Linked DNA regions of Homo sapiens: regions 2 and 3 are each linked to region 1. Evidence: fine-mapped expression QTL. A gene starts in region 1. Each other region holds a variant in brackets. All regions are shown on one strand. Distances are between the middles of the regions.

Evidence for each region. PIP is the estimated chance that this variant, and not a neighbour inherited with it, causes the effect.
Region 2: its variant is fine-mapped to the expression of SNX27 in whole blood (TOPMed, PIP above 0.99). The same link has a PIP of 0.9 or more in T cells.
Region 3: its variant is fine-mapped to the expression of SNX27 in whole blood (TOPMed, PIP above 0.99).

Annotation. Positions count from the first base shown.
Region 1 is chr1:151,606,824-151,614,239 of GRCh38, reverse strand. It overlaps SNX27 (sorting nexin 27), which reads right to left and starts at 2,190. Exons shown (of 12, transcript NM_001330723.2): 1 at 1,728-2,190. The coding sequence starts at 2,038. LOC124904420 (a long non-coding RNA gene) reads left to right here and starts at 872. Exons shown (of 2, transcript XR_007066622.1): 1 at 872-1,049; 2 at 1,841-3,723. RefSeq lists a silencer at 1,835-2,274 and an enhancer at 2,315-2,414.
Region 2 is chr1:151,678,912-151,683,911 of GRCh38, reverse strand. SNX27 (sorting nexin 27) reads right to left here. Exons shown (of 12, transcript NM_001330723.2): 8 at 467-556. Among named protein-coding and RNA genes, the nearest start is that of CELF3, 35 kb to the left of the region's middle. The variant T/G (reference allele first, on the strand shown) is at 3,076.
Region 3 is chr1:151,703,053-151,710,468 of GRCh38, reverse strand. It overlaps CELF3 (CUGBP Elav-like family member 3), which reads left to right. Exons shown (of 13, transcript NM_007185.7): 3 at 678-726; 4 at 1,121-1,249; 5 at 1,392-1,471; 6 at 2,534-2,677; 7 at 2,821-2,962; 8 at 3,175-3,324; 9 at 3,735-3,800; 10 at 4,108-4,245; 11 at 4,504-4,647; 12 at 5,301-5,438; 13 at 7,021-7,416. The coding sequence ends at 5,428. Among named protein-coding and RNA genes, the nearest start is that of CELF3, 10 kb to the left of the region's middle. RefSeq lists enhancers at 3,770-4,270, 4,271-4,771. The variant C/G (reference allele first, on the strand shown) is at 3,449.

The DNA of each region.
Region 1 (7,416 bases):
AGGAAAGGTATACTGTCTCCAAACACTGGCCTAGGTGAGCAACTATTTCTTTTTTTTTTTTTCAATCAACTCTCCCAGGTTAAAACCAACCATTTCTTGAGGTGGAAGAGGTGAGGAAACAGAATGAGTGGACACCATGGAGTTAAGAATGTCAAGGATAAGGGTAGATGGCACGAGATGAGTAAGAAGGAATGGATTTCTCTATAAGGCAGATTTTCAAAAAACTATCCCTTTTGCAAACCTACTGTTTTACAAGAGGCAACAGAAGGTTGCGGAAATTACAATTAAAATTTATAAAAAATGAGAACGATTTCAAGTGGGCAAATCGAAATATGGAGGGAGAGAGTAAAAGTGTAAAAAAGGAATGCACAACATAGATTCAGTAAGCAGAAACACAGCACTGAAGACTGCTGAGGAGAACGGAGACAACGCGAGCACACACCACCTGCAAGTCAACCGGCAATCACTATCCGAATTTCAATACGAAGTACAAAAAGGCAAATGTAACACCTAGATTAGGGTAATGGAGGCGGTGTGCACAGAGATTGCAAGACAAGGCAGCATCCCGCAAGAGCATGGAGGGATGTGGTGGGGGAGGCGTATGAAGGGGGAGGGACTGCAGCAGGGGAGAGAGGGTGGGCTGCAGCAGCAGAAGGCGCCTTAAAAAACAGAAGAAAGGAAAAGCAGCCTAGGGGAGGGAAAGACTAGGACAAAGTCAAGTGTGGGATCACAGGAGGATAGAGTAGAAGAGGCAGCAGAGACGGGCATGCCCTAAAAAAGCAAAGCGGTCAAAGACCCAAAAAGGGCTTGAAGTAGTTTTGAAGGAGGAGGAGTTACAAGGGGTCTACCATAAACCTGACTAGGAGGAGGCATGAGTATAGAGCAGGAGTGAAGGCAGGAGGCCAGGGAAGGGATGCTCTCAGAGGGGTGTGCTGATGGAGACGCTAGATTCCAAATTAGGGTGTGATACGGGGCCAACCGAGAAGAGAAACTACGGTGTCAAATCCCACGCCCCCCACCCCAAAGGCATGCAAGGGTCAGAAAGCAAGGTAAACTCTTGGAGTAGAAATACAAAAAGGAGGGGAGGAAAGGGGCACACGGTGGGATGGAAAAATTTAGGGGCAGCGTAACCATGAGGAGAGGGTAACTAAGGAAAGAAAAAGGAGACGAGCGGGGAGGGATGGTGTTTCCGGAGGAAAAGTAGGAGCAGACCAGAGGTCCTGCCTACTTGGTCTGGAGGGCAGAAGGGGCAGTCCACGGGGGCGGAGGGGAGTGGTGGAGAACGAAACTGCGATGCTGAAGATGAGAACTTGGGGGGGACACGGTACTGGCTGGATCAGAAAACGAAACGCCGTCAGTAAGGAGCAGATGAGGTTCCTTCTGAGCAAGACGAGGGGGAGTGAGGAGCAGAATGCAGCACGCCAAACGGGAAGGCAAAGGGGCGGAGAAGAGCCCAGAGTAATCGGGGCACAGGGAGGAGCACTGGGGGCGCAAGGGCATCAGCTGGAGACGACGGGGTGGGAGACCGGCGTCGCAGAAGCCCCGGGGCGGGTGGTGGGAGGGCAGCCCACAAGGAGGGGCCCGGCTGCGGAGGCCTGAGGGGCGGGGGTCCGGAGGCCGGCTCGGAGCTCGGGGGAGGTGCGGCCTGGGGGTGACAAGGGTAGCGAGGAGTGCAGGGGCAGGAGGGGCGCGGGGAGGATGGGGCGGCGGGTAGCCCCGATACTCACACCTCCAGGATGCGGTCCCCCTTGCGCACCCCGGCCCGATCGGCCGCCCCCCCGGGCAGCACGGCGCTCACATGCTGCAGCGGCGCGTACAGCTCCCCGTTGATGCTCCGCAGTTGCCCGCCCTCGCTCACTTGGCCCCGCACGTTGAAGCCGTAGCCGGACTCGGACTTGACGATGCGCACGACCCGCGGGCCGCCGCCTCCCCCGCCGCCGTTCCCGGCGCAGTGGAGCCCAGACCCCCCGCCGCCGCCGCCACCTCCGTTCCTGTGAGGGGCTGAGGGATGAATCCCTTCCCCGTCCTCGTCCGCCATCTTGCGAGCAGGCGAGCCGTACCCCCGCCCCCTACGCCTCCAAGGCCTCCCGGCGCGTGCTCGCCCTGCCTGGCAGCCGGACGACCCCCGACGCGCGCGCCCGATCCGCCGGCCGCGGGACCGACTCGGCCACCGAGCTGCTGGCGCGGGGTGAAGAGGAGGCAGGGGGCGGGCGAAAAGCGGACAATCGGGCACCGTGGGGCCTCCTGGGAGATGTAGTTTATGGGTGGCGGGGGCGGGGAGCGGTCTGGGCCTGGGCCTGAGCCGAGGTTATAAGACGCAGTTCGGAAGCAAGGCCTGCCGGGAGTTGTAGTTTATCTTTCATGCTGGGTTAGGAGTTTGATCTGCTGGGTGGGGAGAGTATAACCCAGCACCCAGCGTGGTAAAATGATTCAGTTCTTGATGCGGACCAAGTTTTTCGCCCCCCCCCCTTTCATTTCATAACCTCTAAAAAACAATAATGTTAGAATAACTTAACGTTTGTGATTCAACACAGTCTTAAATTATATCAACTCATTTTTTGGCACAGTAACTTATATGTTGACCAGGGCCCAACAACCTGTGAGGCAACCGGATCACGATTAGCTTCCCTATTTTACGTTATTAGGAAACAACCTTAGAGTGCTCAAAGTCATCCAGCTACTAAGTATCAGGAACTAAGGCCCAGTTATTGTGCAACTTTCTTGTCCTGTATTGCAACTACAGTCATGTGCCACATAAGGACATTTTGGTCTACAATGGACTGCAAACACGAGGGAGGCCCCCTAAGATGATAATGGAGCTGAAAAATGTCTATCACCTAGTGGCACAGTAGCCACCATAAGGTCATAGCACAAGCATTACTCACATGTTTGGAGTGATGCTGGTGTTAACAAACCTGCACTGCCAGTCATGTGAAAGTATAGCACATATGATTATGTACAGTACATAATACTTGATAATGGTAAGAACTATGTTACTAGTTTATGAATTCACTGTAGTTTTTATCACTATTTTAGAGTGTACTCCTTCTACTTTTTTTTTTAAGTTAACTGTAAAGCAGCCTCAGGCAGGTCCTTCAGAAGGTATTCTAGGTATTCTAAGTATTGTGATTTTTTTCCACGTATTCCAAGTATTGTGTTTTTTTGTTTTGTTTTGTTTTTTTGTTTTTTTTTTTTTTAAGATGGAGTTTCGCTCTTATCGCCCAGGCTGGAATGCAATGGCACGATATCGGCTCACCGCAACCTCTGCCTCCCAGGTTCAAGTGATTCTCCTGCCTCAGCCTCCCAAATCCCTTGCGATTAAACGCATGCGCCACCATGCCTGGCTAATTTTTTGGTATTTTTAGTAGAGACAGGGTTTCACCATGTTGGCCAAGCTGGTCTCGAACTCCTGACCTCAGGTGATCCAACCACCTCAGCCTCCCAAAGTGCTGGGATTACAGGTGTGAGCCACTGTGCCTGGCCCCAGTTATTGTTACCATCAGATGACAGCTCTGTGCATGTTATTACCCATGAAGACCTTCCAGTGAGACAAGAGATGGAGGTGGAAGACAGTGAAATTGATGATCCAGATCTGGTGTAGGCATAGGCTATGTTTGTGTTTAAGTCTTAGTTTTTAACCAAAAAAAAAAGTTTAAAACATAAAATTAAAAATTGCCTTAAATAGAAAAAAAGCTTATGGAATAAAGATATAAAGAAAGAAAATATTTTGTACATCTGTACAATGTGTTTGTGTTTTAAGCTAACTGTTATTACAAAAGAGTCCCCCCAAATTTTTAAAGGCTGGGTGTGGTGGCTCATGCCTGTAATACCAGCACTTTGGGAGACCGAGGTGGGAGGATTCCTTGAGCCCAGGAGTTCAAGACCAAACTGGGCAACATAGTGAGACCCCATCTCAACAAAAAATAAAAAATTAGCTGGTGGCTGAGCGAGACTATATCTAAAAAAAAAAAAAAAGCAGCTGGGCATGATGGCACATACCTGTAGTCCCAGCTACTTAGGAGGTTTAGGTGGGAGGATCGCTTCAGCCTAGGAGGTCAAGGCTGCAGAGAGCTGAGATCACACCACTGTACTCCAGCCTGACCATCAGAGTGAGATCCTGTCTCCAAAAAACAAAGATGAGATCTCACAAAATATGGGATGAGGACTCAAAGTCATTATAATTAGAACATAAAAATTAATATGACCTTATTTTACAACCAAGCTAATGAAGAAGGATCTTGACTAGTTACACAATAAAGTTGATATAAGAGTTTTGCTCCAAAATAATAGTGGCATTTGGATTGAATATGAATAATTTGGTTTGAACTGAGCACTGGATGGGGAAAGCAAGGCATCAGAGAAAGGAAAAAGAAGGGAGCCTCCCCTAAAAGAGTTATTTTTTCATTGGTTTATTAGATAAAAATATACTGAATGCCTACTCTGAATTAGATAAAAATATACTGAATGTCCCCGAAAGGCAACAGGACATGGTCAAACTTACAAATACACATATTCCTCAAACTGAAGGCGATTCCACTTCCAGGAGTTCATTCTACTGTTACACTTGCACATGTGTGAAGTGATGTTTTTATGAAGTTAAGTCATTGCAGCATTGTTTGTATTCACAAAAGACTGAAAACAACCTAATGTTTATTTGTTAAATCATAATGTATCCACAATGGAAAATTGAATCAATGTAAACACAGAATAAGGAAGCTCTGTATGCACTTATATGGAATGATCATATCATCAATACTATATATGATTTGGTGAAAACAAAGTGCAGCACAATCTATACAACATGATACTATTTGTATATAAAACGGGAACCATGGGCCAGGCACGGTGGCTCACGCCTGTAATCCCAACACTTTGGGAGGCCGAGGTGGGTGGATCACCTGAGGTCAGGAGTTTGAGACCAGCCTGGCTAACATGGCGAAACCCCGTCTCCACTAAAAATACAAAAATTAGCCGGGTGTGGTGGTGCACACCTGTAGTCCCAGCTACTCGGGAGGCTGAGGCAGAAGAATCACTTGAACCCGGGAGGTGGAGGTTGCAGTGAGCTGAGATTGTGCCACTGCACTCCAGCCTGGGCAACAGAGCAAGACTCTGTCTCAAAAACAAACAAAACAAAACAAATACAAAAATTAGCCGGGCATAATGGCAGGTGCCTGTATTCATCAGAAGGCTGAGGCAGGAGAATCGCTTGAACCTGGGAGGTGGAGGTTGCAGTGAGCCAAGATCACGCCACTGCACTCCAGCCTGGCGACAGAGCAAGACTCCATCTAAAAAGATAATAATAAAATAAAAGGGAACCATATATATTTTTATATCTTTAGAAGTATTCACAAGAAATTGATAACACTGATTGCTGCTGGGGAGGGAGACTGGATAGCTAGGGTGTCAGAGGCGGGGACAGGGGTAGGAGAGAGACTTTTCACTTTATACCTTTATGTAACTTCTGAATTTTCAGTCACATGAGTGTTGCCTATTCAAAAAATAAATTTAAAAATATTTAGAAAGGATCAGGTTGGAAGAAAAGATGATCAGAGCATTAAAATAACAAAAGAAAATAAGACACCATTACTGCTGGTGAGAATTCACAATCTAGCAGGAGAGAAAACAAAAAACCATTGCAATAGAGCATGATGAGAGCTGTGAGGAGAGTCCTGCACAAGCTGCTAGGATTGCACATCGGAGGGACTTCCACGTATCCAGAGGGAGGAGTTAGGGAAGATGACTCACGAAATGGGAGAGCTGAGCTAAGTGATTACAGATGAGAAGAGTTAGCAATTGCGGCAGAGAAGGATAGTGGTGGAAGGGCATTTCTGACAAAGGAAACAGCATATTCAAACACACAGAGATTTGAAAGAACACAGTACAGTGTGAGACCACACAGTTCAGTAGGACTGGAGCAGAGGAGACAGGAAGTGGACAGGGGAGGTGGGCAAGAGTCAGATCCAGGAGGGCTTAAAATATCGAATATCGGCCGGGCGCTGTGGCTCACGCCTGTAATCCCGGCACTTTGGGAGGCCGAGGTGGGCGGATCACGAGGTCAGGAGATCGAGACCATCCTGGCTAACATGGTGAAACCCCTTCTCTACTAAAAATACAAAAAATAAAAAATAAAAAAATTAGCCGGGCATGGTGGCGGGCACCCGTAGTCCCAGCTACTCGGGAGGCTGAGGCAGGAGAATGGCGTGAACCTAGGAGGCAGAGCTTGCAGTGAGCCGAGATTGCGCCACTGCACTCCAGCCTGGGCAACAGAGCAAGACTCTGTCTCAAAAAAAAAAAAAATCAAATATCATGCCCAGGAGTTTGAATTTCATTCCTTATTAGTGAGGGGCCTCTGATTGCTTTTAAGCAGAGCACAGGCATTCACAAATCTGTGCTTCAAAAAGTTCATGCTGCAGGATGTGTGGAGAATGAAGTCAGATAGAAAGATCAGTTATGAAGCATTTGCAGTGATTCCAGTGGGAATTAATGAGGTGCCAACTAGGGCAGTAGTGGTGGGAATACAAGGAGGGGGATGCACAGGAGAGAAGGGACTTGGTGACCACTAGGATCTCAGGTGCAAAGGTAGGGGAGGAAGGAATGACATAAGATTCCTGACATGGTGATGTGATTCCCCAAGACATGGCATAAAAAGGAAGCGGAAGAGGTTTGCAGGGAAAATTAATTTAATTTGTTTAAATTTGTTTGATTTAAACAAGAAGAAGATTAGTTTAATTTGGGGCCTTTGGGAAAGCCCAGAGGAATTGTCCAACAACTGGTTGAACACATGAGTGTGGACCTGGGGAAAGGAGTCTGGGCCAGAACTTAGATTTGGGAGCCATCAGCCCTGGGTGGTGGTAGATGAGAACCCCAAAACATACTGTGCAGTCAGATGAGAAGAGTGCCAAGTCCAGAACGTGGAGAATCTGCTCCCATGGTCACCCCATTTAGGAGACTGAAAGAGGGAGAGCATCCAGTGAAAGAGGAGCCAGGGGGCTGGGGGACCCAGAGAGAGTGGGAGTCAATGATGCTGCTTTCAGAAATAGGATCTGGACCATTGACAGAGCACTTTGCATCCAAGAGCTTGTCTCGTTCTCACAATAACAAAGTCAATCGAAATGGTCACAAGAAGCTAGGCTCAGATAACCAGCAGGTCCCAGTCACACTGCTAGTTAATACCAGACCTGAACCTTGAACCCAAATTTTCTGACACTAAGCCAGGACATTCTCCTTCCCCTACCCAGCTTCCCTTTGGTTCAATAAGAAAAAGTTCCTCCTACCCCTTGTGATCTGCAAGGTCGTCAGGTTTCTGTTACCTTTTTGTGTAGGAATTACTTAGGTGAGAATCCCACCTCCATACTTTTGCTCATGGAGTTCTTTGGTCCTAGATGTTCTGCCTCTTTATTTCCCTTTGCTGAACTA
Region 2 (5,000 bases), 71 kb before region 1:
GTGGATCACCTGAGGTCAAGAGTTCGAGACCAGCCTGGCCAACATGGCAAAACCCTGTCTCTACTACAAATACAAAAATTAGCTGGGTGTGGTGGCACATGCCTGTAGTCCCAGCTACTCGGGAAGCTGAGGCAGGAGAATCGCTTGAACCCAGGAGGCAAAGGTTGCAGTGAGCCTAGATCGCGACACTGCACTTCAGCCTGGGCAACAGAGCAAGACTCTGTCCCTCCCCCACCCCACCCCCCAAAATAATAATAAAATTATGTACTAATACACAGTAATTCAAGATCTTTGTGTGTTAAATGGAGAAACACAATGGACTTTGCATCAAGGTCCCTATTCCCCTCCTTTTTTAAAATTAGTTAAGCCACTAACCAGGTTGTAATCCTTTCAAAAATGACTAGGACTATAGGTTTTAAAGGTAGGAAGGGGCATTTTTAAAGGGATTATGGGGACATAAACTTACCATGACCATTTTTCTTTGTTCGTATAGCTTCTGTAATTGATAGGACTTTTCTTCTGCTTTGATGTAACCTTTCTTCACATCATCGACTGCCTATCACCAAAACAGAAGTAGAGCAGAAAGGAGTGTAAAAATCATTATTATGTACATTCTCGATGAAAACAGACACAGACGCATTTTCAGAAAATCTCTTATCCACTTGGACCACCATCATTACCAGTGAACTCTGCCACATGTCCAGGGATATGGTCTGGCTCTGTGCCTCCACTCAAATCTCATCTCAAATTGTAGTCCCCATATGTCGAGGGAGGGACCCGGTGGGAGGTGACTGGATCATGGTCTGGTTTCCCCATGCTGGTCTCATGATAGTGAGGGAGTTCTCACAAGATCTGATGGGGTTTTTTTGTTTGTTTTGAGACAGAGTCTGGCTCTGTCACCCAGGCTGGAGTGCAGTGGCACAATCTCGACTCACTGAAACCTCCGCCTCCCAGGTTCAAGCGATTCTCTTGCCTCAGCCTCCAGAGTAGCTGGGACTACAGGCATGAGCCATCACGCCCAGCTAATTTTTGTATTTTTAATAGAGATGGGGCTTCACTACATTGGCCAGCCTAGTCTCCAACTCTTGACCTCAAGTGATCTGCCCGCCTCGACCTCCCAAAGTGCTGGGATTACAGGCATGAGACACCGCACCTGGCCTAGATCTGATAGTTTTAAAAACAGCAGTTCCCCCTGCATGTGCTCTCTCTCTCGTCACCTTGTGAAGAAGGTGCTTGCTTCCCTTTCACCTTATGCCATGATTGTAAGTTTCCTGAGGCTTTCCCAAGCCATGCGAAACTGTGAGTCAATTAAACTTCCTTTCTTGCACTTTGGGAGGCTGAGGCGGGTGAATCACAAGGTCAGGAGTTCGAGACCAGCCTGGCCAACATGATGAAACCCCGTCTCTACTAAAAATACAAAAAATTAGCTGGGCATGGTGGCAGGCAACTGTAATCCCAGCTACTCGGGAGGCTGAGGCAGGACAATCGCTTGAACCCAGGAGGCAGAGGTTGCAGTGAGCTGAGATCATGCCACTGCACTCCAGCCCAGGTGACAGTGCGAGACTCCATCTCAAAAAAGCACAAACAAACAAAAAAAAACCTTCCTTTCTTTATAAATTACCTAATCTCAGGTAGTGTCTTTATAGCAGTGTGAAAATGGACTAACACATCCAGTAACAGGTATACTTATTGGAATAACTAGCATTTAAAGAATATCTGGCAAGCGCTCAAGCATTCTTTTAGGTATATGTGAGAGATCTGGTTTCTCGTGTCAGAGGACTTAAATTCCAGTTATTTTATACATGTGTAAACAATTAGAGAGCACTGAAAGACAGTATATAATGCTGCATTACAATGAAATAGCAAACATGTATGGTACAGACAGTGATATAGGCAGTCAGAATGGAAGCACTTATTGATAATTACAGTTATCAGGGAAGCCTTAGGTGGATCCCCAAAGAACAGAATGAAGAAGAGAAACTATAAGCTAAAGATAGGAAACAGGAATGAGTCTGTGCTTAAATACTTTGAGAAAACAGATTTGCCTGATTTAAATAAGGGAACAGGAGACAATTAAAGATAATGCTGGATAGGCAGACTAACACTAGATTATGAAAAATCCTAAAAAGTAGGCACAGGAATTTAGACTTAAGGAAATAAACAACAGGGAGCTAAAATAAGCAATAAGAAATGGCTCCTTCTTTATTAAAGAAAGTTTGATTTGTGTTTGAAAGCCACATGAATTAACCTGAAGAGAGAATGAAATAAGGAAGATCAATGATGTTTGGTACTCAAGGTGGAAAGCATTTCCCAGAGTATTTTAAGGAAAGATAGTTGGATAGGCAAATGAGTTCAAGATTAAGTCAAGAGGGCCAGGCGCGGTGGCTCATGCCTGTAATCTCAGCACTTTGGGAGGCCAAGGCGGGTGGATCACGAGGTCAGGAGATCGAGACCATCCTGGCTAACATGGTGAAACCCTGTCTCTACTAAAAATACAAAAAATTAGCCGGGGAGAGGTGGCAGGCGCCTGTAGTCCCAGCTTCTCAGGAGGCTGAGGCAGGAGAATGGCGTGAACCCAGGAGGCGGAACTTGCAGTGAGCCGAGATAGCACCACTGCACTCCAGCCTGGGTGACAGAGCAAGACTCCATCGCAAAAAAAAAAAAAAAAAAAAAAAAGATTGAGAGACTAATTCAACTTCTAGTTCTGTCACCTACCAATGTGTACTTGCATAAGTCATGTAAACCCTTTCACTGTGTAAAACTGGAATATCTCATAGATGTACAAGAAAAAGATGACAGATGTTAAGAGTTTTGTAAAGTATATATCAGTAGCTATTATTAGTATCATTTAGCTATTAAGTTCTTCTAAGAACCGTACAAGGATATGAATGTCCTGCCAGGAAGTGACTAATAGAAAGATTATGCCAGTCTCTCCCCAACCTGGCCATACAAGTGAAGGCTCACTTAGGCACCGAGGATTATAGCCACAGAGGGGATGTTCAAGAAGAACCACGATGCAATGTCAATGTCCTGAAGATCCTGAACACTTTCCTCTTCATCACCAAAACACTGTAC[T/G]GCTCCAGCCAAATTTAAACCAATTATTGAAAAGCCAGCAGAGAAGTAGAGGGGGGAAATAAATAAACAATACTGGTCTATCCAGTTTCCAAAGAAACTTACAGTGTTATTTAGCTCAGGGAAAAGGCTTTACAACTATTTTTCTTTATTTCTGTATTGTTTCGATGAGAATAAGAATATAAGAATACTGTCTTTCTGTTTTGTTTTTACCCCTAACGCCTAGAACTATGTCTGACTCACAACAGTACTAATATTTGATGAACACTTTCCCAAGGCAGAGGTGGGTCACAGTGATTATCTACTCCAGCAATTCCAAGTGAGCTCTTTTACACATGGGGCAGTAAAAATGGTCTTCTTTCATTTCTAATCAAGAAATTGCTTACCCAGGTGTGGTAGCTCACGCCTGCAATCCCATCATTTTGGGAGGTGGAGGCGGGAGGATCACTTGAGGTCAGGAGTTCAAGACCAGCCTGGCCAACATGTTGAAACCCCATTTCTACTAAAATACAAAAATTAGCCGGATGTGGAGGAGGGAGCAGGTAATCCCAGCAACTCGGGAGTCTGAGGTAAGAGAATCACTTGAACCCGGAAGACGGAGGTTACATCTCCGTGAGCCCAGATCATGCCACTGCACTCCAGCCTGGGAGACAGAGCAAGACTCTGTCTCAAAAAAAAAAAAAAAAAGATTACACTGCTTGACTGACTAAGTGGAAAACATAAATATCACCACCCTAGTTTCCTTTTCTTCTTAAATTTTTTTAATTAAAGTAAAAGATGTATATAATTTAAAAAAACAAAACATATAGTACTAAAAGGCTCCTAATAAAAACAGCAGCCTCTGATCCCAGAGCGTCATTCCACAAAAGCAACTACTTTTAGGCACTTTAAGCAATTTCTTGTGATAATCCCTCCATAATTCTAAATGGCATGCTTACATTGACAATTCTTGACTTACCAATTTTAGACACTGTTGACTTACTGTGTTGAAAATATTTGGTTTTAACTCTCTTGTAGCACCCAAACACTCCCACTTCCTCTTCCCCCAACTTCTCAATAAAAAATTAAATACTCAATAACTGCATTATTATAAATATGTAAACACTATTCACAACTAAGCTATATACTATGCTATGACTTCCTTTCTTGCAAAATTTTTTATTTCCTCTGAGGTTAAATGCCTCGTGTTTTTGTTTGTAACTTCCCATGTACCTATCACCAATTTTTCCTCCACAATAACCAAATATCAAAACTCTTTTACTTAGACATTCATTTTCTAAAAACTGTCAACGGTTGTCATTTGCTGTGGTATCCTCCCTTGTTCTCTTTGTCCTTGCAAGTTTACGCTTTTTAAAATTCCAATACTGCTACTTTTGTGAGCTTTCAGGAAACAGCAGCTTAAATGTGTGTACACTTTGCTAGGTTTAGCCAGAATTTAAATATAAATGATTAATTTCTACCTTATTAATTTTTAAGGAAAAGGTTCATTATTACCATTAGCAACTAACATATAATATCTCATCAATTTAAATGAATACATTATTTCATATTTTAACATTTCTGAAATTGGGATGTATCTTACAATCAATGATGTATCAGTTTAACTGACAGCTTTTTTCTCTTATCAATACATAAAATAATGGTGCATCTTATAATTGATAACATTTTAGAACTGTGAAATTCGTTAAATATTCCTACCATCAAAATATGATACAAAAATAATTGAAATTAAGTAAGAGAAATTTAATATACTTTTCAAAAGATACAGTTGTTTACTTAGTCCATCAAAAAACAGCTGCCAGGCACAGTGTTTGTGGCCAGGTGCGGTGGCTCATGCCTGTAATCCCAGCACTTTGGGAGGCCAAGCTGGGTGGATCATTTGAGACCAGGAGTTTTGAGACCAGCCAGGGCAACATGGTAAAACCCCA
Region 3 (7,416 bases), 96 kb before region 1:
ACTCCTTCTCTGGGTGTGTGGAGCAGCAGAAGTGATGACGTCACCACGGTCGCCAGGGCGACGGGGACGGATAAATCAGGCTGAGTGGGCGGTTGCCATGGTGCGCATTCTCCCGTTGCCACGGAGACTGGGCATCTGCTCCCTTTGTGCTGCCCGAGTGCCTTCCCCCTGGGGTCAAGGGGTATAGGGGGGCAGAAAGAGAGGCAGACACACCTCTAGAGGTCAGAAGGAAGTCTGGGCCTTTGTGGGGTCTCCCTCAGTCTAGAGTCCTCCTTGGGGCTTCTTCAGAGTGGCCTCTGTTGCGCCCACTTTGTAGAATTGAGGCAATTCTTATTAAATAACTCCTTGGTCGGGCTCTCTCTCAGGCCCCGGGTCCTATGTGCAGGCCCCCTTCTCCCACTCAGGACAGCAGCACCCATCCCTGGCCAAGTCATCAGGAGCCCAACCTGAGCCTGGAGCTGTGCCCATGAGCCTCTCCCTCTACATCCTCTCTCTCTGTGCCTCTGATCCCCTCAGGCCTTCATCCTGAACAGTATTAGGCCCTGTCCCTTCCTTCCCATCAGAAACTTAGAGGGCCTGGGGCTTGCCCCTCTAGTCTCTCTGCAGGGCCTGGCCTGGGAGGGCTCTTGGGTGTTCAGAGGAGGTCCCCAGCAGCTGCCTTCTCTTCTCTCCTTCAGATGAACAGGCCGATCCAGGTCAAGCCAGCCGACAGCGAGAGCCGAGGAGGTAGGTTCTGTGCCTTTGGACTCTGTCCCTCTCCTCCCACCCCCAGGCCCAGGGCCTGGAGTTGTCGAGGGGTAGCCTTTCTTGAGGGAGAAAGCCTGATGATTCTGAAGAGTTCCCAGCTGCGGTGAGATAGGAGTCAGTGTGGCCAGAGCGGGTGAGATCTGGGGCGGGTACAGATGGCAAAACTGAGGCCCAGGGTGGAGTGCGAGTCCCTCAGAGCTGGGATGAGCACCCTCTGCAACTATACCCCATTCCCCAACCATCAGCCCCTACAGCCATTGGACCCTAAGGGTAGCAGAAGTAGTGTTAGGAGCTCCAGGGAAGGGCGGAAGAAGGGCTGGGAAGGCAGCCAGGAGGCCCTGAACATGCCCTCCTCCTGTGCCCTACCACCCAGAAGACCGGAAGCTCTTTGTGGGGATGCTAGGGAAGCAGCAGACAGATGAGGACGTCCGGAAGATGTTTGAGCCCTTCGGGACCATCGACGAGTGCACTGTGCTCCGGGGGCCAGATGGCACCAGCAAAGGTAGTCCACCCACTTCCCCCTTCCCCACCGGGCCCTTCCCCTTCCTGTTCCACCCCCAAGACTCCCTAGGCATCGGGTTCCACCGCGGGGTCCCGCAGGGATGGGTGCTTACCCCTCTCCTCCTCCATCTCAACCTCTCCAGGCTGCGCCTTCGTGAAGTTCCAGACCCACGCTGAGGCCCAGGCGGCCATCAACACCCTTCACAGCAGCCGGACCCTGCCAGTGAGCCCCACTCCCCTGCCCCCGGGCCTCTCCTTCCCACCCTGCCCACCTGCCAGGCCCTGGCCCAGAGAAGCAGTCCACTCAGGATGGGCTATTTGAATTTATTGGAAAGGAATGTCCTGGCAGAAGAACCAAACTGCTTAGGGACACCCTCACATTTCAAATGGCACTTCCCCACCTCCCCACTCCTCCCCTATTCCCCATCCACCTTCAGCCAAATTCCCTCACATCCCTCTCCTTCTCCCTCCATTCCCCAGCCCTCCCTTCACCCCCGTCTCTTCTCCAGCCTTCCCATATCCCCCTACCCTCATTTGCTGGGGCGCCAGGACACTTGCTTAGAGGCCCCACGTGCACCCCTCTTCCCTGCCCCTGCACAGCAGCGTTAGGTCAGTGACCAGTCTAGAGCCCACCTCTAAATTGGAACTGGCTGACTCAGAAGGCTGTGCACTTCCCATAACTCACAGCTCTCCAGCAAAGGCTGGGCAGACATTTCACGGGGCCTTGGTGGAGGGGACACAGCATTGGGTAGAGAACTGTGTCCAATGACCCTATGCCCCTTCCAGCTTTGAGATTCTAGGATTCTACCATCATCCTTGCAAATGCTCCAATTTGGTTTTTATTCAGCTCAGACTAGTATTAAGATTTGAGGCACACCATGAGGACTGGGGTGTGGGGGCAGGAGTCGTGGTAAGGCACGCAGGGCAGCTACAAGGGAAGACTAGCCTGAGATTAAACATTTGCTGTGGCAACCCAGGGTGGGGATGATTTCCAGTTCAGAGTCCTCACAGAGTAGCCAATGATGCCCTTTTCATTCCAGTAGGCTTTTCACTTTCCAAGCATGTGCCTTCACATTCCTCATTTTTTCTTCTAGCCTCTTGCACATCCTAGCATAGGGAGAGAGTGGGATTAATATCTCCCCATCTTTCATACGCAAAATGGTGGCCGCCCTCTCAGAGAGGCCAAGCCATGCCATGGGGGTGGAATGGAGACCAGGTCCTGAGGGCTTTGGGGAGGAGAGACCCTGACCCTGCACCTCTGACCTGTGTGTGGGCCCGTGCCCAGGGTGCCTCGTCCAGCCTGGTGGTGAAGTTTGCTGACACTGAGAAGGAGCGAGGTCTCCGCCGCATGCAGCAGGTGGCCACCCAGTTGGGCATGTTCAGCCCCATCGCCCTCCAGTTTGGAGCCTACAGCGCCTACACCCAGGCCGTGAGCACTGCCCCTGATGCCGGGCCAGCCCTCCTGACCCCCTGTATCTTGCCCCCACCCTCCCGATGCCAAGGCCCCGGGCTGGGAGGGAGCCAGGCTTGGGCACAGGGGGCCTGCCCCACTCTCCTCTCCCCTCCCCCCAGCTGATGCAGCAGCAGGCGGCCCTGGTAGCGGCTCACAGTGCCTACCTCAGCCCCATGGCCACCATGGCTGCCGTGCAGATGCAGCACATGGCTGCCATCAATGCCAATGGCCTCATCGCCACCCCCATCACCCCATCCTCAGGTATGGCCTGGGCAAGGCCGGGCAAGGGAGCTAAGCATGGTAGGGGTAGGGAGGGGCACAGGGCATTGCTCAGGGAAGCCTCGGGGTCTGGGAGGGACTCAGGGGTCAGAGAGGCCTGCTTCCTCCCCTCTGCCCACAGACTTGCTGACTGGTTCTCTGCCTGTGTGTGTGTCTGCTCCTCTGCTCTCTCCCTGTCGCTTTCTCCTCCCCAGGAACCAGCACCCCTCCTGCCATCGCTGCCACGCCTGTCTCTGCCATTCCGGCTGCCCTGGGCGTCAACGGCTACAGCCCGGTGCCCACCCAGCCCACTGGGCAGCCTGCCCCTGATGCTCTGTATCCCAACGGGGTTCACCCCTACCCAGGTGGGACTCTCTGCCTGCCCACTCCGTCCCAGCAACCATCTAAACCACCACTCCCATTAGGGAGGCAGGACACACCTTCCCTCCCAGCTTTGGGGGTACAGGTGCTTCCTCCTGCCCTGCCATC[C/G]TGGGCGGGGATGATCCTTCCTGTTGGGCTCGGCCAGGAAGCTGAGGTGTAGAGCAGTGAAGCGACCTGTCCAGGGTTGCAAGACAGTCAGACCCAAGTCTTCCTAACGCTGGGCTCTTTCCCCTCTTCCCACTGCTTTGTGCATTTCTGCCTTCTCACTTCACACCCCATGCCCAGAGAAGCTCTGCTCCCCACCTGCCTGGCCTCGGCCCAGAGGCCCAGAGAGGCACTGAGGGCCCCCACTGTGTGCCAGGTCCACGCTCATAGTCTGTGCTGCTCTCCCCAGCCCAGAGCCCCGCGGCCCCCGTGGACCCCCTGCAGCAGGCCTACGCGGGGATGCAGCACTACACAGGTGAGGCGCCCTAGCCAGGGCCCCTGCTCAGGTGGGAGAGGTGGCAGGAGGAAAAGAGGCCCAGTAACTGGGTCTGGGCTTCTTGGCTCCCTGCCAATCACCCTCTTCAGGCTTTACTGACAAGCCCAACTGTGGGGAGGGGTCTTTAAGGGCAGCACACCCAGGGGTCTGAGGCAGCTCCTTCCCTGACCACCTCTCAGCCCTGCAGGTGCCACTGGCCTGGGCTAGGGGAAGGGAGACAGGGTTGGCTGGGAGGGCTCAAGAAGTCAGGGAAGCCCCATCAGCCTCTCTCTTCTCCCCACCCCAGCAGCCTACCCAGCAGCCTACAGCCTGGTTGCACCTGCGTTCCCGCAGCCTCCAGCCCTGGTCGCCCAGCAGCCCCCACCACCACCTCAACAGCAGCAGCAGCAGCAGCAGCAGCAACAGCAGCAGCAGCAAAGAGAAGGTGCTGGCTGGGGCCTTGGGAGACAGGAATGCCCTCGTTATGGGCTTGGGGACTCCCTGTCACCCCGCGCTGAGCCCAGCTCTTGCCCACGTGTCAGGATGAAAGCAAGTGGGGAGGGAGTGGCCGGAGACTTGGCCCACACTGTCAAGGACTGGGACTGGAGGGCACTCCCAGGATCTGCTTTCCCTGGGACATTTGCTTCTGGGGTGTGTGCCTCCCAGTCACTGAGCTCTTTCTTCTGTCTCTGTCGCCACCCAGGCCCTGATGGCTGCAACATCTTCATCTACCACCTGCCCCAGGAGTTCACTGACTCAGAGATCCTCCAGATGTTTGTCCCCTTTGGCCACGTCATCTCAGCCAAAGTCTTTGTTGACCGAGCCACCAATCAAAGCAAATGTTTTGGTAAGAATATGATATGGCACATTTTTTGCCATACTCCAAATCAGGACAAGGTCTAATATATTTGAAGGCATTTATGGTCACAGTGGACCCAGTATTTGAAATACTGATTATCCAAGAGTACAAAAGAGCCATTTTGACACACCCAACATGCCACACCCAGCTGCTGCCTCGGCCCATCTCTTCTTCCTTCAGCGTTTCTCTTAAAAACTGGCCAAATTCATGTCCCATGAGGTCTGAAATAGGCTTATGGTCTGGGGATGTTTGGTTTGCAAAAGGTGGGCTTGGGGAGTCGGTTTTAGCTGCCTTCACATCTTTGAAAGTCTTCCTCAGGGGAGAAAGGGAATGTTCTTCTCTGCTTCAGAAGCCATTTAGGGTCTGGAAGTGGCCGTTTTCAAAGGGCAGGCTCAGAGCTATCCAGGCAGAGGAAGGGGTCACTGGCACAGAATGCTGGGAAGAATGTGGTAGTTGGAGTGGCTGGACTGGATTCATCCATTCAACCCATCAATCAACAAATTCCTAAGGAATGCTGCTATGTGGCAGGCAGCTTTCTAGGCATTTGGGACACTTGGGAGACACAGGGTAGTGCCAGAGGTCTCCTAAGCACGGAAGAGCGAGGTGGGGCTGGGCCGGGCCTTATGCCCCTCTCACCCCAGGCTTTGTGAGTTTCGACAATCCGGCCAGTGCCCAGGCTGCCATCCAGGCCATGAATGGCTTCCAGATCGGCATGAAGCGCCTCAAAGTCCAGCTAAAGCGGCCTAAGGATGCCAACCGGCCCTACTGAGGGCCCCCAGGTGGGTCCCGCTCCGTTGTGGCCTCCCTCCCCAGCTTCACACACTGCAGCCAGGGCCCTCGATTGGACTACACCCCCAACCCCTGTCCTCCACCACCCTCAGGGATGCCCACCCCACCCTTGACCCTGGGCACTTGAAGCAGGGGGCTGGGGCAGCTCCCTCAGCTGTTTTTCAATAATCTGAGTCACTCTCTCTCTCTCTCTCTCTCTCACACACACACACCCTCCGTGACCCCAGAAAGAGCCAAGTCTTTGTATATATGTGTCCACTCCCTGGACCTTCCACAATATCTGGTCTCGTTTGTCTGGTCAGTGTCCATGTCTGTGTGTGTCTCTTTCTGGTTTTCCTTCGGGTTAGAGTGGAATTAGGGGAACAGGACTGGAGGATTAAGGGGTTGGCTGAGGGTGCCAGAGGGCCCTAGAATCCTTGGCTCCTAGAATCTCTGTTGTCCTGAGAAGTGAGGACATCAGCCCTGGTTTCCCTGGACTTCAGGTGATTTTTCCCATGTAGCAGCAGACCCATGGGGCAGCAGAGTGCACAGGACAGACTGGGGGAGCCCATTTTCAGGCCTCTTGGGAGTTGCTCTGGTTTAGGTGGAAGAGGTTGAAATGTCGCGCCGCCTGTGAAGTTTACTTAGGTCTCCTCCACCCCATTGCTGGCCACCACCTCAACCTCATGGCCACAGAGCTGTGAGCCTTGGTTACTTTCGCACTGTTTAATCTCCTTTGGACCAAACCCTTGAGAAAACACAACCCAAGAAAAATACCCACATTTTCTGTTTCTCCCCTTTCCCCCCAATCCTGGCTGCTTAACTCCCCCAACCCTGGGGGCCCCCCCAGCCCAGGGCCCGTGTCCATTGTCGGCCGAAGCCCCCATCCCCGGACCCCTGCTCCGGGCCCCTGTAAGTTGCATGGAACGAGCGTGTTGTCTTTGGAGCCGATTGTTTGTTCTTTGGGGAGGGGCCGCGGAGGGAAGCACCCCCAAGCCCAAGGTCAGGGCCGGGGGCAGCTCGCGGGACGTGCTTGGTCTACAGTGGTTGGTGACTGTGGTCTGTGTTCTGTGCATTTCTCTTGCTTTCTGTGTTCCTTTCCAAAAAGGAATGAGAGCACTAACTGGGGGCCGGGGGTGGTCTCACCCCATGAGACTCCATCCCTGAGCCGTGACCTGGGCTCTGCCCTGGCCTTCTCTGCGGGTGTTCCCTTTCTTTTTCCAGGTGTCTGTCTCTTACACGCACCCCCTTCTCTGTCTCTCTCTCGATTTCTCTGCCTGCCTGTCTGTTGTCATCTCTTTGCCTCTCTCCCCCTCCAGTCTTTATTTTTCTCATGGGCTATCTATTTCCTTCCTAATACCGTTTGGTTTCCTGTATGGTTTGCCCCCTCCCTCCTGTCTCCTCTATCCCTGCTCTCATGGCTGGGGGTGGGGGCAGATGGGTCCGTTTGGACTGAGGCCTGATGATCTGCCTTCCTCAGGCAGCCCCATCCTAGATGCTGTCACTCACCCCAGCCCCCTCCCCTCCCCCAGAGCCCGTGATCCGCATCGGGGGTCTCTTCCCCATGCTTCACCCATGTTTCTTCCTTCACAGGTCTGGAGATCCCAGAGGAAGGGGCGCCTCACACCCTCTTCCCACGACTGGCCCCGGCCCTCTCCGCACACCTGCCCTGGGCCTTGACTGGGTTCTGGGGCAAACGCTGCTTCGTGGCCCCCGGGGGCACAAGACACCGGCCCCTCCCACCCCCCTGCCTCTCTGAAGGGCCATGGCTATGCTTCCCTGGCTCCAAGGGCCCATTTCCTCCTAGATGCCCTTTTGGCCTTTGTGAGGGAGCGAGGAACAGGCTCGAAGGCTCCGGGGTATCTGCCTTCTGCTGGGCTCCTGTGACAGGCCTTCTGTACCCAGCGTTTGTACTTGCCTCCCCCAACAGTGGGCCTGTTCTACCCGTGCAGGCCCCAGGAGAGCCGCAGGGGCCTGCCACACACTCCC